Linked DNA regions of Homo sapiens. The protein of the gene in region 1 interacts with the protein of each later gene in a pairwise test. Each region holds a gene or a part of one and is shown on either strand. Other genes may lie near its edges.

Region 1 (7,119 bases):
GCCTCTGATACCCGACAGGTGAATAGGAGTGCGAGACCATGTGAGTCTCATCGGGGGCGGGGTCCGGTGGAAGCCAGAGTCACTACGGGGTAGGAAGCCGTGTCTCGCTAGGGTCTTGGGACTAGGGGCCTGACAACCTCTGGTCGGGGCGGGGGCGGGGGCGGAGTCTCTCGAGGTAGATGGCGAAGCCACGCCAGGGTCTGGGTACTGGGAGACCAGGCGACGCCGGGGACAGTTGTGTCATCTGGGGAGTGGGGAGCGTCGGGCCTGGGAGGGATTGGGGTGTGTTAGGATCGTAGAGCTGGGGGTCGGGCCCACGTTGGGGTGGAGTCTCCTCCAAGCACAGGGCTGAGGCGGGTCAGTCCGGGAGGGAACTGGAGGAGGGGGGCTTACCTGGAACTGCACATAGTCCCAGCTCTCCTCGGCCGCGGTCTCCTCGGGGTTGGTGCCGTACTTTTGGATGGTTTTCTCTACGACGTCCCGCAAGCTTCGCTCCAGCTGAGAGGCCACCAGTGAGGCTGGGCCTTATCTTCCCCGCCCCACCCCTCCCCCTCTCAGGCTGTGCCAGCCTCAGGCGGGCCCTGTGCATCTCTGGGCCAGTCTCAAATCCTTACTGAATGGCTAGCTCTGTGTACTTCAGGTCTGTCTTTCTGTTTCTTCCACTATTTCTACGGCTCATAAGTCTCTGTCTCTTCTTTCAGGGCGTCTATTTCTTTCTCTTGTTCTCTCTTTTTCCCGTGTGTTTCCCTTTGGAGCTGTTTATGCCTGTCTCCCTTGGTCCAGGTCGGTGTGTCTTTCTATTAATTTATTTTTTGAGACAGGGTCTCACTCTGTCACCCAGGCTGAGTGCATGGCTCACTGTAGCCTCAAACTCCCTGGCTCAAGTGATCCTCCCACCTCGACCTCCCAAGTAGCTGGGACCCCAGGTGCACACCATCACACCCGGATTTTTTTTTTAAATATAGATGGGGTCTCACTATGTTGCCCAGGCTGGTCTCAAACTCCTGGACTCCCACCTCAGCCTCCCAAAGTGCTGGGATTATGGGATTACAGGCGTGAGCCACCAGGCCCAGCCTCTTATTTCTCTTTATCTAGGTTAGCCCCTGTCTGCCCTTGTTTCGGTCTCTCTCCACCCTCTCCCACCACTCCCTTCCCTCTCCTCCCTGCTGGGGGTGGGTGGTGGCCACTGCAGGAAGCTCACCTGGGCCCGCTGAGTGGAGATGAGGATTCCCAGGGTGATCTGTGTGGCAAACAGGAGCAGCAGCATCCCAAAATACTGGGGAGCAGAGTGGAGAGATCAGGCTGACCACCCCTGCAACCCCGGCCCAGGCCATTTTTGAGGGTGGGGATAGGAGTGTTCCTAGGGACGGAGAGGGATGGTGCACTCACCAGGCCCAGGAGGCAGCGGAGCTCCTTGAGGGCCCCCACACAACCCAGGAGGGCGATGCCCATGGTGAAGATTCCTGAGATGGCCAGGACTTTGGACCAGATCTGCAGAGGCACGAAGGCCAAGCCTGGGAGAGGTGAGGGGAGTGATGATGAGCTGTGTGGCACAGCTCCAGGCAGCCCCATTTCCCACCTAGGCAGCCACCCAAGTGGGGAGCAGTATCTTGGTGCCCCTCTCTCTGGGACTCTGTCCCTGCCCCACCCTGAGTCCCTGTTTCCTTCTGAAACTTTCTCTTCTTTCTGGGCCTGTTTCCCGTCCCTGGATCTCTGTCTCTCTTCCTCTTACCCTCTCCTTCCTCCTTCAGCTCCTCCTCGTCCCCAGTAGTTTCAGCCCTATCACTTGTTCTGTGACATTGGCTTGGCTCCTTAAACCTCCCTGAGGCATAGGAGATGATATCTATTTCTTAGGGTTTTTTTTTGAGTTGGAGCCTCGCTCTGTCCCCCAGGCTGGAGTGCAGTGATGTGATCTCGGCTCACTGCAACCTCTGCCTCCCAGGTTCAAGTGATTCTCCTGCCTCAGCCTCCCTAGTAGCTGCGACTACAGGCATGTGCCACCATGCCTGGCTAACGTTTTGTATTTTTGAGTAGAGACAGGGTTTCACCATGTTGGCCAGGCTATTCTCGAACTCCTGACCTCAAGTGATCCACCTGCCTCGGCTTCCCAAAGTGCTGGAATTACAGGTGTGAGCCACCGCGCCCGGCCCCTAGGGTCATTTTGAGAGACACATGAGGACATGTGTTCAACCCAGTCCTCAACACAGGGCAAAGACTTCTTAAATATGAGCGTTTAGGGTTATATTTCATTATTATTTAGGGTCATACTTCATTATTATTTTCCTATTATTAATGTTATTTTGGCTCTTTTACGTCCTTGCTGTATGACATCCATCAAGGGGCTTCCCCTCTCTGAACCTCAAGCGAGGGGAAGGTTTGTGGGGGCATCTGACCAGCCACAAGTCCCGACAGATAGGAAGTGCTTGAGAAATGGCTCTCATGATCATTGTTGTTTGTATGCACAACCCCATTTGCCGGAAGAAGACTCAGGCTCCAAGAAGCCTCCGGTGAGCAGTGGATGGGAGCCTGTAGCCTGCCTGCAGAGTAGGGCACCGTAGGTCTCCCTGAGACAAGGGAGACCCCAGGAAGTTGCTTGGGTTGGGGGAGGCCCTCCCACCTGCCCCAGCCCCCCTCACCCACAAAGGACACGAAGCTGGTCTTGTCAATGAGGATCCAGATGCCGAAGCAGAAGATCAGGCTGCCGAGGACCTGGGGAGAGGAGATGCGGATACGGGGGTGGGCCACAGGGGAAGATGAGGGCTGGGTTAGCGGCAGGGGCTGGGCCCCGGCTGGGTAGCCATGAGGCAACTCACGAAGAAGAAGAGGTTGAAAACGAAGAGGAAGTACTTGATGAGGCTGAGGCAGCTCTCCTGGGCTGACATCTTCACCTAGTGGGGTAAGCGGTCCACTCACCACACAGAAGAGGTGCTGACAGTGGGGGAGACAGGGAGAAAGAAAGAGGCTGAGAGAGAAAGAGAGACGGAGAGCTGAGAGAGAAAGGAAGAACCCCAAAAGAGGAAGTTCCAGGGGTGGGGCTCCACCCACTCCCGCTTCATGTAAGGTGGCTTTCTGTCTCTCTCTCTGTCCCTGTCTCCCTCACCTGCTCCACTGGGACACATGCTCTGGTACCTGAGGGGCCTTGGAATTTGTGGGCACCAAGGACTCATGGGGCAGTCCCTCCCAGGTCTCCATGTCTCAGGCGCTGGGGGATCTAAAGGGACCCCTGATCTACTGGAACCCACCTCTGGGCATGGGGACCTCAGGGCTGACCCTGGACAGCAGCTGACCTCACAGACACTCTGACCTCATGGCCTGCTAAGCTCTCCCATCTCTGCATCCAGCTGTGTCTCCCATTTCCTGCCCTGGGTCTCTTGTTCCTCCTCTCTGGGTCTTTGTCCCCACCTTCCTGCTACTCCCCATCTCTGTCCCCTTATCTCAGCAGAGTCTCTCCCTCCTCTGGGTCTCTGTCCTCCTGCCTCCTGGGGTCTCTATCCTCCCTCTCTCTGTGTTTCTTTATTTTATTTATATATTTGTTTCTTTTTGAGACAGGGTCTCACTTTTCACCCAGGCTGGAGTACGGTGGGGAAAACAGCTCACTGTAGCCTGGGCTCAAGCTATCCTCCCACCTCTGCCTTCTGAGTAGCTGGGATTACAGGTGCACACTACCATGCCTGGCTAATTTTTGTATTTTTTGTAGAAATGGGGTCTTGCTATGGAGTGGGAGTGTTGTATTTTTTATATTTAATTAAAAAAAAACAGAGATAGGGTCTCACTAGGTTGCCCAGGCTGGTCTGGAACTCCTGGACTCAAGCGACCCTCCTGCCTTGGCCTCCCAAAGTGTTGGGATTACAGGCGTGAGCCACTGTGCCTGGCCTCTCTCTGCTTCTGGCCCCTTCTTTGGGTCCTTCCTCCTTTCTCTCTTCATCTCTCTTTTGTTTTTGTTTTTGAGACAGGGTCGCCCAGGCTGGAATGCAGTAGTGCGATCATAGCTCACTGCAGCCCCAACCTTCCCAGGCTCGAGCAATCCTTGCACCTCAGCCTCCCAAGTAGCTGGGACTACAGGTGCACACCACCATGCCTGGCTAATTTTCTTCATTTTTTGTAGAGATGGGAGTCTCACTGTGTTGCCTAGGCTGGTCTCAAATTTCTGGGCTCAAGTGATCCTCCTGCCTTGGCCTCCTAAAGTGCTGGGATTATGGGCGTGAGCCACTGTGCCCAGCCTGTCTTCTTTTCTCTGTCTCCCCCTTCCCCACTTGTTTTTGTGCCTCTCAGAGTCTGCAGCCTGTTCTGGACCAGGGAGCACCCAGGTGCTGGGGGCAGGGGCTGGGTACCTGGGGAAGTGAAAGTGCTACAGGCTCGAGGTGGGAAGGTCCCTGGGAGTGGGGAGGGCGCTGGGCCGTGCCAACACCCCCAGCGGAAGCTGAGCATCAGGCGGTACTTCCTGCCTCTGCAGTGGGGCCCGAGGAGCGGAGGCCCCAGAGGAGGAGGCACTGAGCCTGGGATCCTGACAGTCAGATCTGGGTCTGCAGTGCCTGGTTGCAGGTGCACACCCAGTGGCCTCTGCAGTTTCCTCTGATGTCCCCAAATTCTCTCACCTGGTTTCCTCATCTGAGGCAGCCCCACCATCTATCTAGTCATGAGGTCAAAGCTCCATCTTGTCCCCTCTTCCCCAACAGCGCATCAGTCTCTTAGCCAGATCCCTCCTGCCTGCTGAGTCTCCACTCCACCCCTCTTCTCTGTCCTGAGGGCTCAGGCAGGCTCTGGGCTCCTGCTCTCCTACCTGGACCCTGACTTTAGGCTTCTCCCTGGCTTCTAGTTTCTCCCTCCAGTCTGTCCCCCACATAGCCCCAGAGGGGTCTTTTTGAAACCCAGTCCTGAGCCACACAGTTCTGTATCCAAACGCTGAGTCACCACCTGCCTCATCCCTCAGCTTTTATTTTTTTGGTGGTTGTTGAGACAGAGTCTCACTCTTCGCCCAGGCTGGAGTACAGTGGTGCAATCAGCTGACTGCAACCTCCGCCTCCTGGGTTCAAGCGATTCTCCTGCCTCATTCTCCCAAGTAGCTGGGATTACAGGCATGACCCACTACGCCCGGCTAATTTTTGTATTTTTGGTAGAGACGGGGTTTCACCATGTTGGCCAGGCTGACCTCGAACTCCTGACCTCAAGTGATCCGCTCACCTCGGCCTCCCCAAGTGCTGGGATTACAGGCATGAGCCACCACACCCAGGTTTTTGTTGTTGTTGTTGTTTGTTTGTTTTGAGATGGAGTCTCACTCTGTTGACCAGGCTGGAGTGCAGTGGCACGATTATGGCTCACTGCAACCTCTGCCTCCTGCGTTCAAGCAATTCTCCTGTCTCAGCCTCCAGAGTAGCTGGGATTACAGGCATGCACCACCATACCTGACTAATTTTTGTATTTTTAGTACAGACAGGGTTTCACCATGTTGGCCAGGCTGGTGTTGAACTCCTGACCTCAAGTGATCCAACTGCCTTGGCCTCCCAAAGTGCTGACATTACAGGTGTAAGCCACTGCGCCCAGCCCCTCAGCTTCTGTTTCTAACCACCACCAACGCCTCTCTGCTCTACCATTAAAGTACATTGCAAACCCAGCCACTTCTTTCCAAGGCCACCATCCTAAGTCAGGTTCCCATCATTTTCTACAAAAATAATTATAGCTGATTATAGTGGGTTGCATGGCGTTCTCCAAAAAGATATGTCTATGTCCTAATCCCCAGAACTTGTGGTGACCTTATTTGGAAAAAAGGGTTTTGCGGGTATAATTACATTCAGGATCTCAAGATACTGCATTATCTGTGTGACCCCTAAATCTGATGACAAGTGTCTGTTTTTTGTTTTTGTTTTTGAGACAGAGCCTCGCTCTGTCACCCAGGCTGGAGTGCTGTGGTGTGATCTCGGCTCACTGCAACCTCCGCCTCCCAGGTTCAAGCAATTCTCTGCCTCAGCCTCCCGAGTAAATGTGATTACAGGCAGGCGCCTGCCAGCACACCCAGCTGATTTTAGTATTTTTAGTAGAGATGGGGTTTCACCATCTTGGCCAGGCTGGTCTTGAATTCCTGACCTCGTGATCCACCCACTTCAGCTTCCCAAAGTTCTGGGATTACAGGCGTGAGCCACCGCACCCGGCTGACAAGTGTCCTTCTAAGAAACACACAGAGGAGAAGACACAGAAGAGGAGAGCACCATGTGATGGTAGACACAGAAATTGGAGTTCTACAGCCACAAGCCAAGGAACTCCTGGAGCCACCAGGAGATGGAAGATGCAAAGAACTGATTTTCTCTCAGAGCCTCTGGAGGGAGTGTGGCCCTGGTGACACCTTGATTTTGGACTTCTGGCCTACAGAACCATGTGAGAATACATTTCTGTTGTTCTAAGTAGTAAGTCTGTGGTAATTTGCTATTTCAGCCATAGGAGACTAATACACCAATCCCTCCTTCCCACCCACTGATCCCTCCTCAGAGATGAGTACATGATTAACCAGAAGTCGAAGGGTAGGTGGCAGAGTGCAGTGGTGCAATCACGGCTCACTGCAGCTTTGATGCTCACCAACTTGGTTTCTTCTTTCCTAGGCACACAGGAGGACTTCATTTCCCAGGTCTCCTTGCAGTGAAGTTGAGGCCATGTGACTGGTCTTGGGCCAATGGAATGGGTGCAGAAGGGACACAGCCCATTTCTAGACTCAGCCTGAAATGTCCTCCATAATCCTTACTCTTTCTCCCTTCACTCACTGGCTGCAGGAAGCTGAGAATTATCCTTGGACTTACATAAAGCATTTTGGACTTTATGTAAGTAACAACCTGTTGTATTAAGCTACTAAGATTTTACGGTTGTTTGTTAAATCAGCTAACCTTAAACATCCTAACAACTACAAATAGAATACCTGTTACTGCATACACTATATATATCAAAACATTATTATGGGCCAGGTGAGGTGGCTCATGCCTGTAATTCCAGCACTTTGGGAGGCTGAGGCAGGAGGATCACATGAGCCCAGGAGTTCGAGACCAGCCTGGGCAACATAGTGAGACCCTGTCTACAAAAATTAACAAAAAAATTAGCTGGGCTTTGTGGTATGTACCTACAGTCCCAGCTACTCAG
Region 2 (7,026 bases), on another chromosome or scaffold:
AGAACACCTGTGTTTTTCAGTTGTGATGCTGCACAAATCTACCCTGTCACGCATGGTTTCCCGAGTGCCAGCGTTCGTTTGCTTCCACAGCTAGCACTTTTCTTTGATCTTGTTTCACTTTTTATTCCTTTTTTTTTTTGAGACAGAGTCTTGCTCTGTTGGCCAGGCTAGAGTGCAGTGGCACGATCTCAGCTCACTGCAACCTCCACCTCCCGGGCTCAAGCAATTCTCCTGCCTCAGCCACCAGAGTAGCTGGGATTACAGGTGCCTGCCACCATGCCTGGCTAATTTTTGTGTTTTTAGTAGAGACGGGATTTCACCATGTTGGCCAGGCTGGTCTCGAACTCCTGACCTCAGGTAATCCACCCACCTCAGCCTCCCAAAGTGCTGGGATTACAGGCGTGAGCCACCACGCCCGGCCCACTTTTTATTCTTTTCCATTTCACTTTGCTTTGTTTTCATACAGAAATCTTCCACTACCCTATCTTTTCGGTAGTTTTGTCTCTTTTTGCTGCTTCCAAGATGGCTTTTATTTCCCTAGTGGCTTTTTTTCTTCATTGATTGTCCAAAGACAATCTTTGGTTTACTTTTTAGTTTAGTTTACTTTTTAATGGTATGCTGTTTAATATCTACAGCAGTTTTAGAATTGGCCCCATGTTCTTTGACTCTTTGACACTTCTCCTCAAAAGGGTGGTTCTATCTATCCCATCCTTTGAAGCTGGTGGCCTTGGCTGCTCTGACCAATAGGATCAGGTGGAAGTGACCCTGAGGTAGTTTCTGGGCCTGGTTTTATAGGCCTGGCAGCCCCCACTTCCTGCCTCTTGGGTAACTGCTCTCAGCCCGCAGCTGCCATGCTGCCCAAGGGAAGCATGGGCCCAAGGGAAGCCCAAGGGCCCCAAGGAGAGGCCATGTGCAGGTGAGCTGGCTGACAGCCCCGCAGAGGTCTCCAGCATGGGCTGTGTCTAACCAGCTGCTCAGTGGCTGAGTAGTGTGAGTGAGCAGAGTGGAAACGGTCCTCCTGTCCCTCGGGCCACTGTGCAATCCCCTGTGTGAGCAGACGCACTGAACCCTGCCTACCTGGCCCTGCCCACACAGCAGGACGGCAGGGAAACCAACACCTGGTGGTGTTTTTGGCAGTAAGTTTGGGGTGATTTGTTATACAGCAGTGGATAAGGTGCCCAGCATTCATGTTTCATTTTCTCTATCTCCTCTGTGTCCTTGTTTCAGACAGGCTGTCTTCTTTTCTGTAATGATCATGATGAGGTACATCCAGCATTACAACAGGCTTCTTTCTCCAGCATGTCCCATGCTGGTCATCCTAGGCTGCTGTCTTCCTTGCTCTGTTTCCCTGCTATTTCTATCCAGGCCCATGCTGATGCCTTTCTCACAGTGGTTCACCTCTGAAGGGGCTTCCTTCTGGGAAGCTACTGTATGAAGAATGGGGTGAGGAGGGCCAGCCTGACCCCTGCTGTACTCTCGCCTGGCCTTTGTGCTCAAGATGGTGGAGTCTGCCTGCCTGCCTGGGAGCTTGGCTCTTGTGGCTTACCCTTCATGCAGTCCCTTTGCTGGCCGAGGTCCACCATTCCCCATCACCTACCAGTCCATGGACTGCCTCTTAGGGAAAGGTGAGTGGGTGGGTATTGTCACTCAGGGTGGGGTCTCTGACCACTGCAGGGCATGAAACACAGGATCCTATCTGCCACCCACTAGGTAGATTTTGAAGGTCTGCCATCTATTTCTGAGCATGTGGACTTCACCAGAGACTAGCAGGGTTGTTAACCTGCCTTCGGCACCCTCTTTGACTCAGTGGGATTGGTGCCATCACGTTTTCCAGTTGGTTAACATAGACCCTAGGTATACACCACAGATGAGTTAATATGAAGATAGAGCTTTCTTATCTTTTCTTCTTTTAGTTGTTATTGGTTCATTTGAGGGTTCAGAGAGGGGTCAAGTTATATTAGCAAGGGGATTGGTCACTGTGAAATTATTTTTTAGGAAGTCCAAACCTGCACCCAGAACTAGTTTCTACTTTATGTTTTGCTGGAAGTCCACCCTTAATTCTTGATAATCTCTGCCTCACCAAACCAAGGGGCATATTTCTTTTAGCTTCAGTCACATAACTATCTAGATCTCTTCTTTCCAGCACTGCATCTATTTTTTGACACTTCAACTCTTCTGGATACCAGTTAAGCCAATAGAACAATTTCTACATATGTAGTGGACATACACAGATGACGAGTTTATTTGGTAAATCTTCACTTTCTAACTTTTGCATGTATAGGTAGGTGTTCATTAGAAAGTTATTTTGGAATAGCTCCAAGCTGCAATATTGGAGCTCTGAACTGCAGTACTGGAGCTCCAAGCTCCAATAGCTCCATGCTGTGGGACAGTGTTCCACCACATGTTATGAAATGTCCTATCAGAAAAGGATGCCATGGATGAATCTGGTTTGAGAAATGCAGTGCAGTAAACCCTCTACTGAGATTCGTAATGTTAAGTAGCATGAAAAGGGCTTCGGGGAAATCCTGCAAGAATCAAGCTGTCCAATGCAAACTTTTCAAATTAACTTAATGAAGGAATCCCATTCTTCTTTTTTCAAAACAAATCTTCACTTAATACCTCGATTCCTGATCATTCCATGAAACATAATTTAGAATATACTACTTTGAGTAAATCTCAAGGTGTGATATTATTTTTATTTTTTAAACAGTAAAATCAAAGATTATAAGAACATATCTTACATAGTTATTTTTCAGTAGCAAAACTGCTTTTTGAAACCATACCAATAATAAAATAAAGAAAACGTACATTTATCTTGCATTTTTTACCACCTGCTGCTCTGAATATTAGCTAAGTTGTACTTACCTTGTAGTAGTTTTCATCAGCACGCAGTGCTTTGGAAAGTCCGAAATCACTGATCTTGGCGTAATGTTGGGTAACTAGCAACACATTTCTTGCAGCCAGATCTCTGTGCACAAAATTGCTCTCCTCCAAGTACTTCATGCCCATGGAAACCTGATGAACCAGTTCTATGATGTTCTTATCCTTGACATGTCTGAAAGTCATAATGATCTCATCAGCTATAACAGACAGTGACCCATTTCACAACAAACAACCATGCTCCTCACGCAGGCAGTGGGTGAATCTACTCCTTCCCTCTTCTTAAACAACAAAACTCACGAGTGGTGACAAATAACTTTGTTAGCATATAGCTCTTCAGGACTCAATGCCATATTCTCCTGGTGTTCAATGGGATTGAGTTTCCTGGCATGCTTGGAATTGCAAGAAAAGCAGTATAACAGAGTAGTCAGGCCTGGCTCACAGATAGCCAGGCACCACCTCAAATCCTTGTTCCAGTATCACACAGGTCACAGAACTAACCCTGAGAATCAGTTTCTCACCTACAAAGTCAGGGTAAGAACACCTCCCTTCCATGGAGACTAAAGAGACAATCTAAGTACAAACGTAGCACAGCAAATGAGGCAAGCTCCTCGGTGGCCATCATTCTGTCTTACTCCAAGTGAGTTTCTTCATCTCAACAACAGCTTTAGATGAGAAGAACACAATTACTCCCTTGATGGATGTAATCAATTAGCAGTGATTGGTATTTTCAGAAGTCATCACTCATGAGAACATAAGGTCAGCCAAACAGATAAGACTTAACTGTCACCTCTTAGAAAAGCATTTATTTAAAATGTTTCTTTAAAAAGAAAGTGTTCTTCCCAGTGAGAAAGGAGATTCCATGTCAAGATATTCTGAGGCTGAGTCTATCACTAGGCCAAGACTGAATGACTACAGGAAGAAAAAAAAGACAAAACTGTCAAATGAGTTCTTCTCTGAACAACTAGAGCTAACAGAGCTGAATCCAAAGACTATGTCTCCCTGTCCCTCTGTCAAGGTCCCTGAGTATGGACCAATAAAGGAAGGCACAGGAGGGTGGGAAGGCTTCCCAAGGAAATCAGGCTGCTCGGCCCATCCAGGGGTGGGCCCTGTCCCTTAGGGGATAGCTTCCAGATGTGTGGGGGCACCTGACAATACCTGTTCTGCTGCAAATACTTATTGAGGGGACCAAGTTCTGCCATCTCCATAACCAGCATCCAGGACTCGGCCTCGCATATCCCGATCATCCGCACGATGTACGGGTTGTCCAGCTGCTGCATGACATTTGCTTCTGCTAATAACTCATCTTTAAGAGCGGGGTCATTGGCCTCGTTTTTCAGTATTTTCACAGCCACGGTTTTCACAACTCTGCAAGAGAAATCATAACACACAAGAAACTTTCCAAAATGCCTCACTTCTAGATAATCTTATCCTGTGAAGCATAATCCCCCTGTGGAAACAGTCCCACGGAAATACCTGCCACAGAGTGGCAATGTGTCTTCAGAAGCCTGTAATGGATGGCTGGCCTTCCAACCTATATTCCCTTATTTTATAGACAATGAGAGTAATACTCCATTACTAAAAAAGAATGGTGGGGGCTGGGCATGGTGGCTCATGCTGACAATCCCCATACTTTGGGAGGTTGAAAGGGGAGGATTGCTTGAGGTCAGAAGTTCAAGGTCAGCCTGGGCAACATAGTGAGACCCCCATCTCTAAAAAAAATCACCCAGGTGTGACAGTGCAAGCCTGTAGTCCCAGCTGCTCGGGAGGCTGAGGTGGGAGAATCACTTGGACTCAGGAGTTCAAGGCTGCAGTGAGCTTCTTGCCACTTCACTCCAGCCTGGGTGACACAGTGAAACACTGTTTCTAAAAAATAATATAAAATAAAAAGAATGGTGAAGAACAGTACTGAAGAATGTCCCAACCAAGCAAAAACCCTAAACTGTAAAATATTTAAATAACTTGTAAATAAACTTCACCAACGATGACATGTACGAATTCCTGTAACATCTTGGGATTCACCATCTCAGATTACATGTAATGAATGTGAATATAAAATGCCTTTCATAATTGTTGAAAGTGAATTTCTAGGTGCAGAATTTAAAAGCATATATTTCAATGTAATACATTGAAAAGGTAAACAACTCTCCTGAGAGAGGCTGAAGAAGACCTGGTAAATGGAGAGATGGGCTGTGTTTATAGATTGAAAGACTCAGTATTGTAAAGACATCATTTTGCCCCAAATTGACCGAGAGAGCCTCTCCTCTCCCCAAATTCTCTAGTTGAAATTATGTCCACAGTCATGTCTATGTTAATTCACAAATTTAAGCACAGAATAAAGATCACAACCTTTCATAATCTGAAAAAGCTTAGGATTAATACAGAAACATTTTTACTCATTGTACAAAATGACTGTGATATACAAACATATATTTTAAAATAAGTATCACAGCCAATTTTGATTGTGTGTGTATATATGTGCGCATGTATATACTTGTGAATGTATACATATGTGTGTATGTTTGTGTGTGTATACATACATGTATGTGTATCTAATTTACACACACACACATGCACAAAAACAAATCGAAGGGACAGATTGGAAAGCAAGCATTTCTTTTTTCTTTCTTTCTTTTTTTTTTTTTTTTTTTGAGGCAGAGTTTCACTCTTGTTGCCCAGGCTGGAGTGCAATGGTGTGATCTTGGCTGGCTGCAACCTCTTCCTCCCAGGTTCAAGTGATTCTCCTGCCTCAGCCTCCTAAGTAGTTGGGACTACAGGTGTATGCCACCACACCCAGCTAATTTTTTGTATTTTTAGTGGAGACGAGGTTTTACCATGTTGGCCAGGATGGTCTTGAACTCCAGACCTCAGGTGATCCACCTACCTTGGCCTCCCAAAGTGCTGGGATTATAGGCATGAGCCACGGCACCCGGCCGGAAAGCACGCATGTCTGTGTATATTTTTGTCTATATTTTTAACCCTTGAATCATAAAAATTACCTACTCACGAATTTTTTTTTTACAAAAATCCCTTACATTTGAAATACCATGAAGCTACTAAATCTAACCACATTCATATTAGTATCATACCAATTCAAACAGAGGGTGTATTTCAAAGGACTTTAGAAACCAGTAGTTTTACTTGTACATTCTATGTTGGGTACCTTCTAAAGACCAAAAGAAATACAAAGATATTTTCGAAATTTAGCAATTTTAACTGTTGTATAATATGTATTGTTATCTGAAATCATAGGATAAAGCCAATAAATAATTATACTAATCATATTTGGAATCAATAATTTTCATGTAAGAAAAATGAGATGTAACTATAAAATTAAAGAAAATAAATGTAAAAACTATTGTTATAATGGAATGATTTTGTTTTAATTAAATAATATCTGTGTGTACAAATAAAGATCTAAAAATATATACAATAAGATTAAGTTAACAGTAGTAATGTTTAGTTAACAGTAGTAGTGTTGGGATGGTATTATACAAATATGATGTTCTTCTTTTCTTTTTTTTGTTTTGTTTTTTGAAACAGGGCCTTGCTTTGTTACCCAGGCTAGAGTGCAGTGGTGCAATCATGGCTCACTGCAGCCTTGGCTTCTTGGCCTCTTGAGCAGCTGGAAGTATATGTGTGCACTACTATGTCTGGCTAATTTTTTATGTTTTATTTATTTATTTATTTATTTATTTTTTTTGTAGAGACAGGGTCTTGCTATGTTGCCCAGGCTGGTCTCAAGCTCCAGGCCTCAAACAATCCTCCTATCCCAGCCTCCCAAATTGCTAAGATTACAGGCATGAGCCACCATGCCAATTTGATGTTTTTATTTTCTTATGTTTCTGCTTGTTTCTATTTCCTAATTTTCCATAAGGTGCATGTACTATTAGGTTGGTGCAAAAGTAATTGCAGTTTTTGCCATTAAAGGTAATGGACGCTTTCATTATAATAGTACCAGAAATTAACAAGAATGGTAGCATTAATAAAAAAAGGGTTTAGTCATGCCAGGTTACATTTTGTTATTCTCAGTCATGTCTAGAACCTGAGCTCATGTGAGGGTGAGGCTGGTGGAACATAGCAACTTACTTTTTCATTTGGTAGTAGCCCTTTTTCACAGTTCCAAAATTACCAGAGCCCAGTTCT
Region 3 (7,026 bases), on another chromosome or scaffold:
AGGCCAAAGCAACTCCATCTTGGATGCTAATCCACCATGTTGACTTCTGATTAACTTCAGTTCCTGGAAGGCCTCTAAGATTTCCCACTTATCTAATGTTCCTTGTGTAAGAACAGGTACTTACTTACTATAAATCCTGCCCTTAGGTCAAACAAACTTGATGTTACCCTACTTCAATAGTTCTACAAATCCTTTCTGAATCACCCCTTTCCTACCATATATAAACCCTGGGTCTAGGGGGTAACGGCTCGGGGATCCACCATCTTGTCTCGCCATCGCCCGAGATACAGATATGGCTTCTGTTCAGAAGTCCCAATTATAGGTTTCTTTCTGATAAACTAGATTTGTCAGCCTCTTTCTTCAGCCTCTCAGCTTCCTTGAACTTTGAGATAGGTTTGCATAGACCTGCCCATTGCTAAACAAGGATCTATTAAGCCATACTAAGGATGTAATCCTCTTATATGCAAGCAGGAGTGATTTAAAGGTTTTTAGCAGAGAGTAATATGATCATATGGTTATAAAGAGTTGGACACAAGATGGGCACATAGTCAAAATCTTAGGAACCTTCTTCATCTTCCAACATCTTGCCCGCATGGCAATTATTGCTGCAAGAAAAGTTATTAATTGTTTCACCCCTTTGTACCTTGTCCCTTTACCAGTCAGCTATTGCTCTTTTTGTGTCACTCCCCCTCATCCTTTTATTGTAGGCTCCCAGAAGTGCTCCAGATGTAACAGACCCTCAGGACTGCAGAGTGTCCATCTATCATTGTTGGATCTGTAACATATAAGGGCTGGAAGCCCTAAGCAAAGAAATGAGTCTGAGTCAACTTAAACAGAGAAGACATCATATGGAGTAAAAATAAAACAATGTCAGACACATCCTTGACATTATAAACCCATATAACTGAAAGGGATTTTAGAAACCATTTAACTCCTAATTTCCCTCTTACGGGGGAAGTAGAGCCCAGAACATTTGATGTAACCAGCCCAGTGCCACAGAGATGGTTAGAGTCAAAGCTGGAACTAGAACTAGGTTGCCTGGTTCCCAAATAGTCTATGTGCACAAAAAGAGGGCATTTTCTGAGATGTTGCCACCCCTACAAGGTCAAAGCCTTTCTTAGAAGAGTTTTCTTCTTCTACTAAGCAGGTTCTATTTCATCAAATAGAACAAACAAAAACATGCTAATTTCCAAGACAGGGACATTCTGTTATCTTCTCCCAACACTGGATAACATGAGCCATCTGTTTAGGAAACACTCCATGACCACAGTTCCCTCTTTATCACTTAGGGCCTTATTATCTACTTTAAAAATTCTTCAGATCCTGACCTTTTCCCATGGTTCTCCATCTACCTGCCTGTGCCAAAGCCATTTCCTGATAACTGGGAAGTGGGAAGGGAAACGAAGTGAATCTTTAAAAACTATTTTGGCAAGTCTACTTAAGAGAAATTGTTGGAGGGGAAGTTGAAACTTTTGGCTGAAATGCAATGTAGTCTGATAATTCACCCTCATTTCAGGTGATATTGGCCAAGGCTACAGTGAACCTAGCCAAGGGGGCCACTGGGAGCTAAAACACAAGCGAATGTTCATCGGGCCAGGATCCAGGAGGCTATTGCTTCTCCAAGGAGGCACATTTTTCATTTCTCACAAAGGCATCCCATATCTTGGTTGTGGCCCTGATAAAGGATCCTTTTCCAGCTGAAGGTCTTCTCTACTTTCCAATACCAGTATCCACAGTCTTGATCCCTAAGAACAGAGCAGAAAAAGCCAATTCCCTGAGCCAGAGAAGTGAAAACTGGTCTGGGGAGGAAGATCCCAAAGTGCTAACACAGCTAGAAGATCCCAGAGAGCTAAAGCAGCTGTATTACCATTTGCCCGGGCCTGTCCTGATTTATACCTACTGTCTTGGAAAAACAACTGAGAGCCCTTTCATTCTCCAAAGTGTCCCAGTGGGAAATGATAAATTTTATGGTTACCATTGTCTGCAGTTCTTGGGGTTAGAGACCTCCAAGGCATCTACCAATAGAATTCAAGGCATCCACCAATAGAATTCAAGGCATCCATGAACTTGCATGGAAAAAAAAGTCGCAACTTTGTTTGTGAAGCTTAAATGGCAATGTACCATCTCATTCCCATTTGAACACAGGCCATAAACCTCAATAGTAGCCATACTAGTGATTATGTCACCAATATAAATATTTTCATATCACAATACAGCTGCCACAGTTATCTCATAGTAGCATTTATGCCCATTCCTACTTCGAAACAATAGTAGCCACTAGTCCCACTACAAGATCTTGTTATAGAGGCATTATTATGTAAGAGGCACATATATTAGTAACAGTGGTTTCTTTTATAAGTCGATAAACAGATATTTCAATAAAATTGGTTTGTGCTATAATCTTATGTATTATATTTTATGCATTTAAACACCATTCCAGGGCCCGCAGGCTTTGTCAGACTGTCAAAGGGCACTATGGAGTAAATCAGAGTAGAAGACCTTGGCCTGGAGATTGATAAAGCCACATTAATGTGGCACTCTGATATGTGAGAAAGAGACCTTGCCCTCTGGCTGGGGAGCTAGGCTGCCTTTGAACTGATCTATGCTATGAGGTATTATTTAGTACATTCCTCTTCCTTATAAGCCCTCTTCTTTCAGTCTTTATTACTCCCATTCTCTTTTTTTTGTCTTCTCTTATTCTTATGGGATTTTTTTTTCCCCTTATCCTTTGGTTTAGGTTTACTATCAGATATCTCTTAGTCTTACTGTGCTAAGTATTGGGTTCTCTTCCTTTGGATAGATTTTTTTTTTTTTTTTTTTTGCCATGCTTCTCTTACACCTCTTTCTCTCCTGCCCCCACCTTTCCCACCTTTCTCTGCTGTTGTCTGCTGCCAATTGCTTGGCCCTCCTGACTTGGCTGGCCACACACCATACCCCTTTCACAGGTTTTGTAGCAGAAACATTGGGTATCAACAGTCCACAGTACATCTTCCCTTTGGGAATCATTTTCAGTTTACTAACAGACACTGTTTCTGAGCCACAGTTAAAATAACAAACTAGCCACCCCAATAAAAAACCACACAACACATAGCAGCAGGAAAATAAAAACTTTGAAACCCTAAGCTTAAATATAATTGTGGAAAGGGTGAAAAGTATTCCACTTAATAATCCCTGATGGCCAGACATCTAGAGAAGATCAGCAGCCTGGACCAGGACTCTTCTCAGTGTATAAATTCCCAGTGCAGCATAGGGAAAGCATACTGCTTAGTCACCGCTAACAGGGGGAGCCCTCTGTAGCAGGCCTATACAATGATTATTTCTCCAAATCAGAGCTCAGGTTAGAAGACTCAGGGGAAAGCCATGAGACCTCATGACCTTTGTGCTTTAGCTTTAGAGAACTATGCACTGTGCCTTCAGCACTGTCCTCGCCAGAGGACGTATTTGTCCTGAAATATTATAGCAGTCTCTCCCAGTAAGTTACTGAATACTTCTTCTATCAATGACCTAAAATTGGAAGGAAGAAGGGAAGAAAGGAAGAAAGGAAGGAAGGGAGGAAGAGTGGGAGGGAGTGAGGGAGGGAAGGAAGGAAGGACGCAGGGAGGGAGGGGGAGGGGTAGAGGAGGAAAAGAGAATAAAAGGAAACTAATCTGTATTTGAAAACATACTTACCACTTTGTCAAATATTACTCCATGGTTGAGAATAGCTTCACATTTTTAAATAATATTTGTTTCCATTTTATTTCTAATAAAAGGCACCTAAAGCATTTTTTAAACTGTCTGAAAAGGTAGTGACATTTGCACTGGACAAGTATTAACATAAAAGGTAGCTTAGAGAGCTTAGGATCAAATGAAACTGTAAATTTCATAACCTTTCCTAATCTGTTCATTTATCCTCCTAAAGAATAAAATCTGTTTTTATTTGTGGAGGATTTTTTTTTTTTTTTTTTAGTATTTACTCATTTATCTATTTTGAAAGAACTAAATGGCCCTTACTATTAACTTACCACCTGTGGTGGAGAAATAGTATGTTCAAGCCTATCAGCTTTTGAGAAGATTCCAGATTTCATTCTCATATGAAATGGCCATTTCATATGTCATTATCATGTTGAGATGTATTAATTCACTAAGTTTTTATAAAGTATATGTAGATATATACTAACATCTCAGAGCTTCCATCATGGCTCCAAACCATTTATCAAATAAAGTTCATCAAAGTCACAATCTTCAGATAATAAAATGAATACAAAATTTATTAATCTTATGGATTATTCAAATCTAAATATAGATTAAGATATTTTATATTTTTTTAAATAAAATCAATAAGGGTAAAGCTTCTCAGGTCCTACTCTGAGCTTTTTTTTTTTTTTTTCCAGTATCTTCTTCAAACTCTTTCTACAGAACCTTATTATTTAGCTTCTCTTGCTATTAAAATTAATCAAGATCAGATATTCCGAATCTTGATTATTTTTTTTCAAATATCTTACCCAAGACTTTTAACTCATACTATGTATTGTATAAACATATCTATTCATTGTGTTCTGAATAAAAGTTTTTATTTTTCCATATCCTTTGTCTTAGAGCATATTGCTTAATAATAATTGTTATTCTAAATGTCAATGAACTCATATTTATATGATTTAAGATAAAGGTACACCCCAAAGAATCTCCCCAGCAGACGTGTCATGTGGGACTTTTGATATTGCACCACCTAGCAGCCACAGTAAAATAAGTAGAGGGGATTGGACCACATAAGTAAGATGAGGATAGAGCTCCCCTGAATAAACTGGGAATTGGAAACCAGAATGTCTGCCCAGGTTCCAAAGGATTCCCCTTCCTGTGGTTCCTAGGACATAGACCATTTCTTTTGGATATTGTCACACTTAACTTCAGTGTTATGTCTCTTTTCTTTAACACTGCTGCAACTCAACTAAGCCGGTATCCCCACCTCCAGAAGGTCACCCTTCTGGATGATCTGGTTTTGAATGGCTCTTCCTGAAGAGTGGGGCAGCTGTGCAAGTTTTTCCTACTTGCATAAAAACAAAATTGACTTCTAATGAATTCTCCGGAAAATGAATGCTTCTCCTTGAGATAACTGGGGTCTTGGGGATTCAGAACAGTCAACCTGACACAAAACGCAGACTGAGGTCGAGGGTAGGAAAAAAAGGAAGAGGAGGAGCAGCTCTTAGTGCACGTTGGCTCTCTGTGGGCATTTTGGTCACACTTGGGTGCCTCAGCAGCCAAGCCTCACCTCCATCTTCCTCCACCTCATCCCTCCTCTGACAATATTGTTGCCTCACTCTCTTCTTTTCTTCCTCCACTATAGGATGGCCTAGGTCCTCACTATAGGATGGCCTAGGTCCTAGTGTGCCACAGCATTAGAGATGGAAATCCTATTCCAGGTGACCTAAAAGGCACCAGGTTTCCACTATCTGTCTATGACTCTTGCCCCGCTGATCTGATTCTGAAAAACAGGATTCTTCTATCCCTCCTCCCTGTTTACCCTGGCTGACTTTTTGTTGGTTTGTCTCCAAGGGGAGGACATCCTGGTACTACAGCTACAGAGAAAAGACATGAGGTGTTCTTGGAAACTAGAACTTTGTCCCACAAAAACGCTTAAAGGTATATGAAATCCTCAAGTGACTGCAGAAAGTCCCCTTTGTTGAAGGGGCCAGGTAGGCGAGGAAGTGGCAAATATTATCGGAAGTGACAAAGAACTATTTTTCCTCTTTCTGAGCCCCAAGTACAGAAATATATTGTTTTGCCTCAGCTTTACATCAGCATAAACTTTAATGAAAAGTCAAGAATCCAGGAGAAATCCAAGAATTTATGCCACTGTATTCAAAAGAATGTTTCCTGTGATAGGAAAAATTCCCTGTTATTTTCACAAATACCTGGGAGTGCAGAAGGATGAAGCAACTCAATCTAACAGAAGACTGCTAAAATCATTAGAAATCATTTAATCTTATTTAGAATCATCCAGAGGTTTGCATAGTTAATTTTTGTTGATTTGAAGGCTTACAAATATTCTGCAATGTTTTATTTTTGCAAAAAGAGTCACATTTGTGGTAGCTTATTCATTATATATGATATAGAGTTTTTCTGGTTATGCTGATTGAGAAGCATTTATACGAAAATAAGCAAAACAGTCTTTTTAAAAATAAAAAGCCTTTTCCTAATTAATTTTAAGATGTTAAAAAAACAGCAGGAGTGAGCATAATTTATTTATGTATAATGGTACCATATTTGAGCAAGGGTCAAAAGGCAGTGGTTCCAGCATTAGTTATGCTACAAATGCACCAAATGGCCTTGAGCTCAGCATTGAATCTCCTCCCTGAGTCTGGATTGGGTGGGATAATATCTGAGATCCCTCTTAGCTCTAACTAATTATGTGACTCAATTCAGAGAGAGGCTTTCATTTGCAGAATACAACTGCTACATAAAACTGCCTCTAGTTTTTGACTACAGAGCAAATCTCTGTTCATATTTGGATCCCTCCTTCCATTTACCTTCCTATTTAAAAAGGGAATGTCTACAAAAGGTTCAGAAGAGAAGTCCATTACCAGTAGCCAGTTCTCCAAATCGATTTCCTCTACTAGTATTCCACTATACCAAGGTGTACCCCAACAAACTTTGAGACAGGCGATATGTAACATCAGTCTCCCTAATACTCTAGTCACAGGGGCTCACAGGCCAGGACTGGCACTTATAGTACGCCGCTGCAGTTTGGAGTAAAGGGTGAGGGGCCTCACTCATGCTTCCTTCCAGACAAATGGTTTTTAGTACCAAATAGGGCTGGGAGTATGGGACACACTCAGTGTTCTCTGATCACCAGACCACTCAGCCCCACCATTTCCTGGCTGAATGTCAATAAGCAAATAACTTGAATTCTTCAATACTGGGTTTCTCCATCTATAACATGAGATAAATAACTCTACCCATTTTTCAGGGTTGTTGTGAGGGTTAAATCTAACACAAACACACACAACATCAAAGATAGTGTCTGGCACATAGTAAGAACTCCACAAC
Region 4 (7,242 bases), on another chromosome or scaffold:
CAGGTGCCCATCACCATGCCCGGCTAATTTTTTTTTATATTTTTAGTAGAGATGGGGTTTCACTGTGTTAGCCAGGATGGTCTCGATCTCCTGACCTCGTGATCTGCCCGCCTCGGCCTCCCAAAGTGCTGGGATTACAGGCGTGAGCCACTGTGCCTGGCCTGTAATACCGGTTAACATTGGATAAGTATTTAAGAAAAAATCTACCTTGTGGCAATTTATGTATAAATAATATTTCATATAGTTGTTAAAATTTTTTTGTAGCCTAAAATAATTCTTAGCAATTTTTGTTTTTCTTTATTAATTCCTTGTATCTATAATCACTTGTGCTAAAGTCACCCATTTTCCCCAGTAATACAGGTTTAATATTCTCAATCCTTACCACTTTACCCTCACACAGAGGCATATATCCATGCTACTTTTTTTTTTTTTTTTTTTTTTTGAGACCGAGTCTCACTCTGTTGTCCAGGCTGGAGTGCAGTGGCGTGATCTTGGCTCACTGCAACCTCCACCTCCTGGGTTCAAGCAATTCTCTTGCCTCAGCCTCCCGAGTAACTAGGACTACAGGTGTGAGCCACCACACCCAGCTAATTTTTGTATTTTTAGTAGAGACAGGGTTTCACCATGTTGGCCAGGCTGGTCTCAAACTCCTGATCTCAGGTGATCCACCCACGTCAGCCTCCCAAAGTGCTGGGATTATAGGTTTGAGCCACTGCCCCTGGCCACATGCTACTCTCTTAAAGACAGAGGACCTGGGGGCATGAGGGCTTGAGGAAGGTGGACGTTGTTCAGAGAGGTGAGCTCCAGGCTAGGGGAGGGCGGAGCACACTCCACCAGTGGTTCCCAAACTTGGCTGCTCATTGGAACCACCTGGCAAGGTTTTCAGTCTCTGATAATTGGGGTTCCCCTCACCATCCCCATCCCCCAAAGACTTTGATTTAACTGGTCTAGGTAGGGCCTGGGCATGGAGATATTTTAGCAGCTCAGGTGATTCTAATGTGCCCCCAGGGTTGAGCACCACTACTCTGTATTATTTGCTACTTGGTAGTTAGGTCTGTGGCCAAGTTGGCAAGAGTTAGGTGGAAGAATACTAGAAGAGGCAGCAGGGGCAGCCCACACAGTGGCAGTGGGATGGGTTGCAGCACAGATGATTTGGTGGACCAACATGAACAGGTGAGCAGCATGACCAATCCTGGCCTCAAGCACCATGACCACGCATGAGATGATGATGGCGGTGCTAATGAAGAAGTTCCTAGAGGTCAGATATTTCATTTTCCCACAGTGGATGATGGGATGCTCTTGTATGCTGCGTCCCATTATTTGTGGTAGTTATGTTCTATAGTCACTGTGAACACTGAATTAGCGAATACCGAGTCACTGCTTCTTAGGTTCCTGTGAGTCTCTGGACACAACATTTTCATTACATTATGATTAATACATAACCTTATATGGTGTGTGTTTCTGTTTAATGGACACCTTATTTAATATATGGCTGATTCATTACATTGAGTTCACAACCAATAGCACAGTAGCTCCTGCCTGCAGGACGGTTCTCCAGTGGGCACGCCACAGCCTCTGGTGCTTAGCAACAACAGACAGCACTTTAGCAAGCTCTACGCTTCGGGCCATTTATTTTTATTTTTATTTTTTTTAATTTTTTTATTGTGGGGGGGGTCTCACGATATTGCCTAGGATGGTCTTGAACTCCTGAGCTCGAGCAATCCTCCCACCTCGGCCTCCCAAAGTGCTGGGATTACAGGCATGAGCCACTGAGCTCAGTCGCTTGGGGGCCATTTTAAACAGCAAAATCACCAACAAAAAGCACAGAAGTGTGGAAAGCATAAACTAAATGGACAGCAAAAAGAATACAAGAAGGCAGAGCATCGCCTTGTTCCACTATAGCTGGGAGGGTGTGCGTGGGGCAACTCAAGATTTTTACTGCTCTGGGATGTGCATATCTATGAGTGACTGGGAAAACACCTCAAGTATTGATTTTGAGATTACAAATACATTTTAGCAAGTAGATAAGTTCACAAATATGATATCTGCAAAAATGAGGATACACTGTACATAACGTATTTACAATACCGCCTTCTCTTGCCCCGCCCATCGTATTCCTTCCTTTCTTCAAAGGCCCATCTATCCTGTCAAGGAGCCTTAATTGATTTGCACCCTGCCTCTGATCACTGCCTTCTGTGCTCAATTTAGAGAAAACTGGTGAGATAAATCAGTCATCAATCAATTAACCAATCAATCAATACTAATGAACTATTTTAAAGCACCCAACATAATTTCTGGGAGGTAGAGTGGGGAATAGATAAATATAAAAGGCAGTGCCTTCCCAAAAGGAGTTTACCAGTAGTTGAGGAGACAAGCCTAACATGGGCAAACAATGCTAAAAAGTACCTAGGTCTAGTTTAAAATAATGTTGCACACCATACATGCTACAGATGCTTTAAAAAGTTGCCTATCAATAGGAGCTTTAAATAAAACTTTCCTGAGAAATAGAACTTTCATGGGACATTAAGAAGGAAAGACAGATATGGAGAATGATTGAATGAAGTATTCAGCAAGTATAAATGCAGCCTAAGAAGTGGAAATTAGCATCGTATCGTTTTTTTCCAAATAAGAATGAAGAGATGAACTTAGTGAGGACAATTTTGTGAGGAGTTAGGGAGTTGGGGATCTGGTTGCAAGCTCAGGTAAGCCTGATGATGCTTTGTTCCTTACCCTGAGAGACATTTTACCAAAAACACTGACAGACATTCCTGATAGATTAACCAATACCAAACGTTTTTGAATCCTATTCTTATTTGCCACACACGTTTAGTCAGGATCTCAAGGATTCATCAGTAGCAGCAGAAACTTTAATGTAGGGTTAATATATTTGAGAGGTCATTCTTAAGAAAAGTCTAGGCAATAGGCCCTCAGGTAGTGAATTATTCTGTAGGATTCATTGTTTTTTGTTTCATTTTGTTTTGTTTTGTTCTTTTTTCATTTTTCTATTTTTCTCCATAGGATTCTTGATAGGTTTCAATCACACACCTTCCCATGGGTATTTCCATGGGCAACCCACCCCTTCTCTTCAGCAGTAAACTAACAACTACATACCAGTGAACATCACAGGTATAAACCACCTTTCTTCTTTTAAGGAATTAGTATGCAAACTTTAGTACTCTTTTCCTAGTAACAAATAACTGCTGTATCAGATTGTGTCACAAGGCAGCTGCTTTGACTTATTGCTCTGTAGCTGGGGTCAGCCTCTTCAGAACATTGTTAATGAGAGAAAGGAAGTGCTTTGGGCAGTGTCTGGCCCATCAGGCCCTCTGTAAATGTTTGCTATTAATGCAATGCTGAGATCCCAGTGAACAGAATCTGGCTTAGAAGAAGTGGGTATCCACGGTGCCCGAGCCTAATCTTACATCTTGGATTTGTAAGTGGCATTTATTGAGTTGAACATGAGCTTGAGCACGCGGTCACACATTCTTTCAGCAAACACTGGTTAGGCACCAGCTGCTACGTGCAAGCACTGCCCTACATGCTGGGACGCAGCTGTAGTAGGAATGAAATAACGCCAGCATTCCTGCATGCGGGCAGTGCGGGCCCTGTACAGAAAGGTACACGAGATAGGCATCCTCACATCCATTGTCCTGGGAGGAAACTGAGGCTTTGAGAAACGGAGAACTTGCCGGGCCATTTGACTCTACGTCATCCCCTCCCCCATCAATGCCCTGAACAGCCTCCTGTACACCCTTAAGGAACTTACTTTGTAATGATTATTAAGAACTCAGCGAGACCCCGAGCATCACCTCGGCATATCGCATCCTTTCTCTAGAGAACCCCTAATGTTGGAAGGGATCAGAGCGCACCTCCTCCGCTCCTGGGAGCACCCCCTTCCTAATAATACCTTGGGGATGGGTCGGAAGGAAAGGAAAGGAGACGCGAGAGGTGTAGTCGATGTGCCTGCGAAGCCCAGGCTCCTCTGGAGATCCTTCCGTCCGTCCCTACAGGAGAAGGCTGGCCCGGGCTGCTCCACTCCCCGGAGCTGCAGACTGAGTCGCCAGGTTTCTGTGCCTTCAAAGCCCTGCGCGACGGCCACACCAAACACCCAAACCTTGGGCAGGGACCAAACGGTCACTTCCCCGCCCTCCGGGCTCAATATGCAAATCCGAGCACCAGGAAGTAGCTGGGACCTCTCGGCCGAGCCCAGAGACAGCCAGTTCCTCTCCCGCCGCGCCGGGCCGCGCTGCCGCTCGCTCCCCGGCCGTGGCGCCTCCGGGCCAGACGCGCTGCAGCCTCCAGCCCGCGGCAAGCGGGGCGGCCGCGCCACCCCCGGCCCCGCGCCAGCAGCCCCTCGCCGCGCGTCCAGCGTTCCCGGCCAGCAGCCTCCCCATACGCAGGTCCTGCTGGGCCGCCCCGTCGCGCCCCCCACTCTGAACTCAAGTCACCGTGGAGCTCCGCCGCCCCGAAACTTTCACCGCGAGCGGGTGAGTCCTCTGCGCGAGCCCAGGGGTGGGCGCGGGCACGCGGGCAGTGGGTGCAGGGGCCGCGGCTGTGCCACCAGCCGGAGTCCCGGGCGCAGGGTAGACTCGGGGCCGGGGGCATCGGCGCGGCCCGCGGCGGCTTCCTGGCCGCACCGCCTCTGGGCTCCGGCGGCGAAGGCTCTTAGATGTCTTCAGCCGACGGGTGACCGGGCCCGGGGGAGCCAGGGCGCGGGGACTGAGGCTCCGCAGGTGTCCGCCGCGGAGCCGCGCAGGGGAGCGGTGGGAGGTGCGGGCGCGGGGGCGGGCTCACCGCGTGTCCTTCCCGGTGAGGGCCCGAGGGCCGGCTGCTGTCCCTGCTCCGGCCGCTTCTCGCACACAGTGGGGAAGCCGCTGCCCTTGCGGAGCGGGCGCGCGGCGGGGATACTGGAGAGGACTCCTCGGATTGTGCAATCTGATCTCCCCTCTGGACCCTGGGTCTCCTGGCAGTGGGAGATGGGGCTCGGCCGGCGCCCTCTCGAGGCCCGCGGACAGTTGCCCTCCCTGGTGGCCCCGGGCAGGAGCGTGACGTCGAGGGGCTGCAGCGGAGGCTGGAACTCACCCTCCCGCTGCGGCGCCTCTCGGCCTGCCGAGGAGCAGTCCGGTGCTTTTGCCGGCTGAGAGGAAGCGAGAGTTATTTTAAGAATTCAGGGGTTGCCTTTCCTTCGCCTTGGGGGAAGGGCGTAAGAGTCAGTTCCCACTTTCCTGCATTCTCTGGGCCCATGGTGGCATCTTTTGCTTGCGGTGCATTCGTAACTTTCCAACAGCCTGCCTGTCATGTGGATTAGCGGTTGTGTTTTTGTATATCCGAGTGTGTTAATTATCCCAAATTCGCCCTTCTTCGCCAGCTCAGAATCTAGGCCTTGCACTTTTCTGGCTGTATATTTAGGGGACCGATTATTGAAATTCCCTGTTTGAGTTTCTTCATCTTTGAGAGAGCATATATACCTCAGGGGCTGTTTAGTACACACAAAGCCCCTAGTACGTACCAAGCATTTCATAAACGATGTTACTGTTATTTATTGCAGTGAATTCTATTCATATAAATGAGGCTTCTTGGTTCTTTGCAGCTTGGTGATGTTGAAGCTAAGACTACCATGTCAGATTTAGCCATCTGACCTTATTAGTAAATCTGCTTAATAAATACATGAGGGATTTGCTGTCCCAAAGCAGGGCCCAGTAGTCTGACTTTCCCTAAAGAACTAGCCAATAAACTGGTGGGCTACAGGGATGTTTTCTCTGTACAGCCAACACCTAAAGCCATGCCCTGGGGAATAGGCACTGCAAGAACCCAGGCCTTACTAAGCCCTTCTCTGTAAGAGTAAGCTTTGTTGGGAAAGGGTGGGATCCAGTTAGTCCCTCCATTCTCATTTGGAGGTAAGCAGGTAAGCGCTTTGAGGCCTGAATAAATTTCACTGGATCATAGAGTCTTTGGTGACTGGGCCTCTTTGGATGTAAATGTGTGGCCCTTTTGCTGAGTGAAGGATAGAGGGCAGCAGATGTAAGGGGAGAGAAAGTAGGAGCCAGGAACCTTGAGTTTTGGCCTCTTCCATCATTTAATATGCTGTGATTTGGGATAAGCCACTTGGGCCATTTATTCAGCCAAGATTTCCTTTATAGCAGCAGCCAGAGTTATATTGATTTGTCTGCAGGTTGATAGTCTGTATTAACCATTACAGTGGAAGCTCCATGAAAACTGCTTCATCTGTCTTGTCCAAAATGATAGCCCCAGTGCCTGGTACATAGTAGGTGCTCAGTTCGAGATTACTTGGAAGAAGGAATGAAGGCCTCCTGTGAGCTTGCCCTATGCAAAACTGAGGACATAGGGAGATGAAGAAATAGAGCTGGTCCCTAAGGTGTTTGAAGCCTACTGGCCCTTTCTGTTGTGGTTTCTAAAACGGGGATTTGAGAGGCTTTGTTGACTGTAAAGTTACCCAGCACTGAGTTACCCACATTTAGTGTGGGTAACTAAATGAGAGTCTCCACTCAGCACCGCTCTTCTCTACTTATTACTGGAAGAGAGGTCCTGATGTGGGGTGGTTAAGATGTTTCCTGCAAAGGTAGTTGGCCCAATCCAGAAGACCTACATTATTTTAGAGTCATTGGTGTTACAAAGGTAGGTCGAAACTTTGTAATCCCGCCCCTGCCCTCCAATAGCTTTCTTTTAGCAGAAAAGTGGTCCAGCACTGTTCAATGACTTTGAAAGCCTTTTACTTCTATCTGCAATATTTGTTTTTAGATAAATCACCAAAAACATCTGAGATTCCAGTTGGTTCACATGACTATGTGGAGTTGTAACTTAACAAAATTAAATCATATTATTCATGTACAAACCCATACTAACTTTATAAATAAGGACACCATGTATACATGCCCACAGCAGGGAACATTGTTATAAGCTCACTCCTACTGATGATCTCAGTGATGCATGGATGAGTGTTAACATTGAAAGGCCACCACAATCATTAGTCAGGACATTGATCAATGTCACATTGATAGCAGAGATAGCCTCAGACCTTTACTGGCTCTTCCTAGTGATGATGGTGAAGGTGTTAGCACCTTTCATTTGTTCAGGGCTCTGAAGTCTTCCTGAACTCTAATTTCATTTGAACCTCTTGTGGCTCCTATAGGATGGAGAGGGACAGATACAGAAAAAGATTCAGGGGGTTGTCTAAGGTCACAGGCTTGGTTAAGCGGTACCATTAGGAGTAGTAGGTATGTT

What was found.
Region 2: the proteins of CD37 (region 1) and SYK interact in binary tests that used the Homo sapiens proteins (3 or more experiments, as listed by UniProt).
Region 3: the proteins of CD37 (region 1) and LRRC3B interact in binary tests that used the Homo sapiens proteins (3 or more experiments, as listed by UniProt).
Region 4: the proteins of CD37 (region 1) and LYN interact in binary tests that used the Homo sapiens proteins (3 or more experiments, as listed by UniProt).

The regions. Positions count from the first base shown.
Region 1 is NC_000019.10:49,331,304-49,338,422, reverse strand, and holds the start of CD37 (leukocyte antigen CD37), read right to left. Parts: upstream 3,018-7,119; 5' UTR 2,883-3,017; coding exon 2,814-2,882; intron 2,710-2,813; coding exon 2,637-2,709; intron 1,515-2,636; coding exon 1,390-1,514; intron 1,277-1,389; coding exon 1,202-1,276; intron 499-1,201; coding exon 394-498; intron 1-393. Other genes in the region: SLC6A16 (orphan sodium- and chloride-dependent neurotransmitter transporter NTT5), read left to right, coding at 6,711-6,806. UniProt on the Homo sapiens protein: Structural component of specialized membrane microdomains known as tetraspanin-enriched microdomains (TERMs), which act as platforms for receptor clustering and signaling.
Region 2 is NC_000009.12:90,874,793-90,881,818, reverse strand, and holds part of SYK (tyrosine-protein kinase SYK), read right to left. Parts: coding exon 6,970-7,026; intron 4,249-6,969; coding exon 4,039-4,248; intron 3,056-4,038; coding exon 2,866-3,055; intron 1-2,865. UniProt on the Homo sapiens protein: Non-receptor tyrosine kinase which mediates signal transduction downstream of a variety of transmembrane receptors including classical immunoreceptors like the B-cell receptor (BCR).
Region 3 is NC_000003.12:26,625,767-26,632,792, reverse strand, and holds part of LRRC3B (leucine-rich repeat-containing protein 3B precursor), read right to left. Parts: intron 1-7,026.
Region 4 is NC_000008.11:55,875,617-55,882,858, forward strand, and holds the start of LYN (tyrosine-protein kinase Lyn), read left to right. Parts: upstream 1-4,218; 5' UTR 4,219-4,487; intron 4,488-7,242. UniProt on the Homo sapiens protein: Non-receptor tyrosine-protein kinase that transmits signals from cell surface receptors and plays an important role in the regulation of innate and adaptive immune responses, hematopoiesis, responses to growth factors and cytokines, integrin signaling, but also responses to DNA damage and genotoxic agents.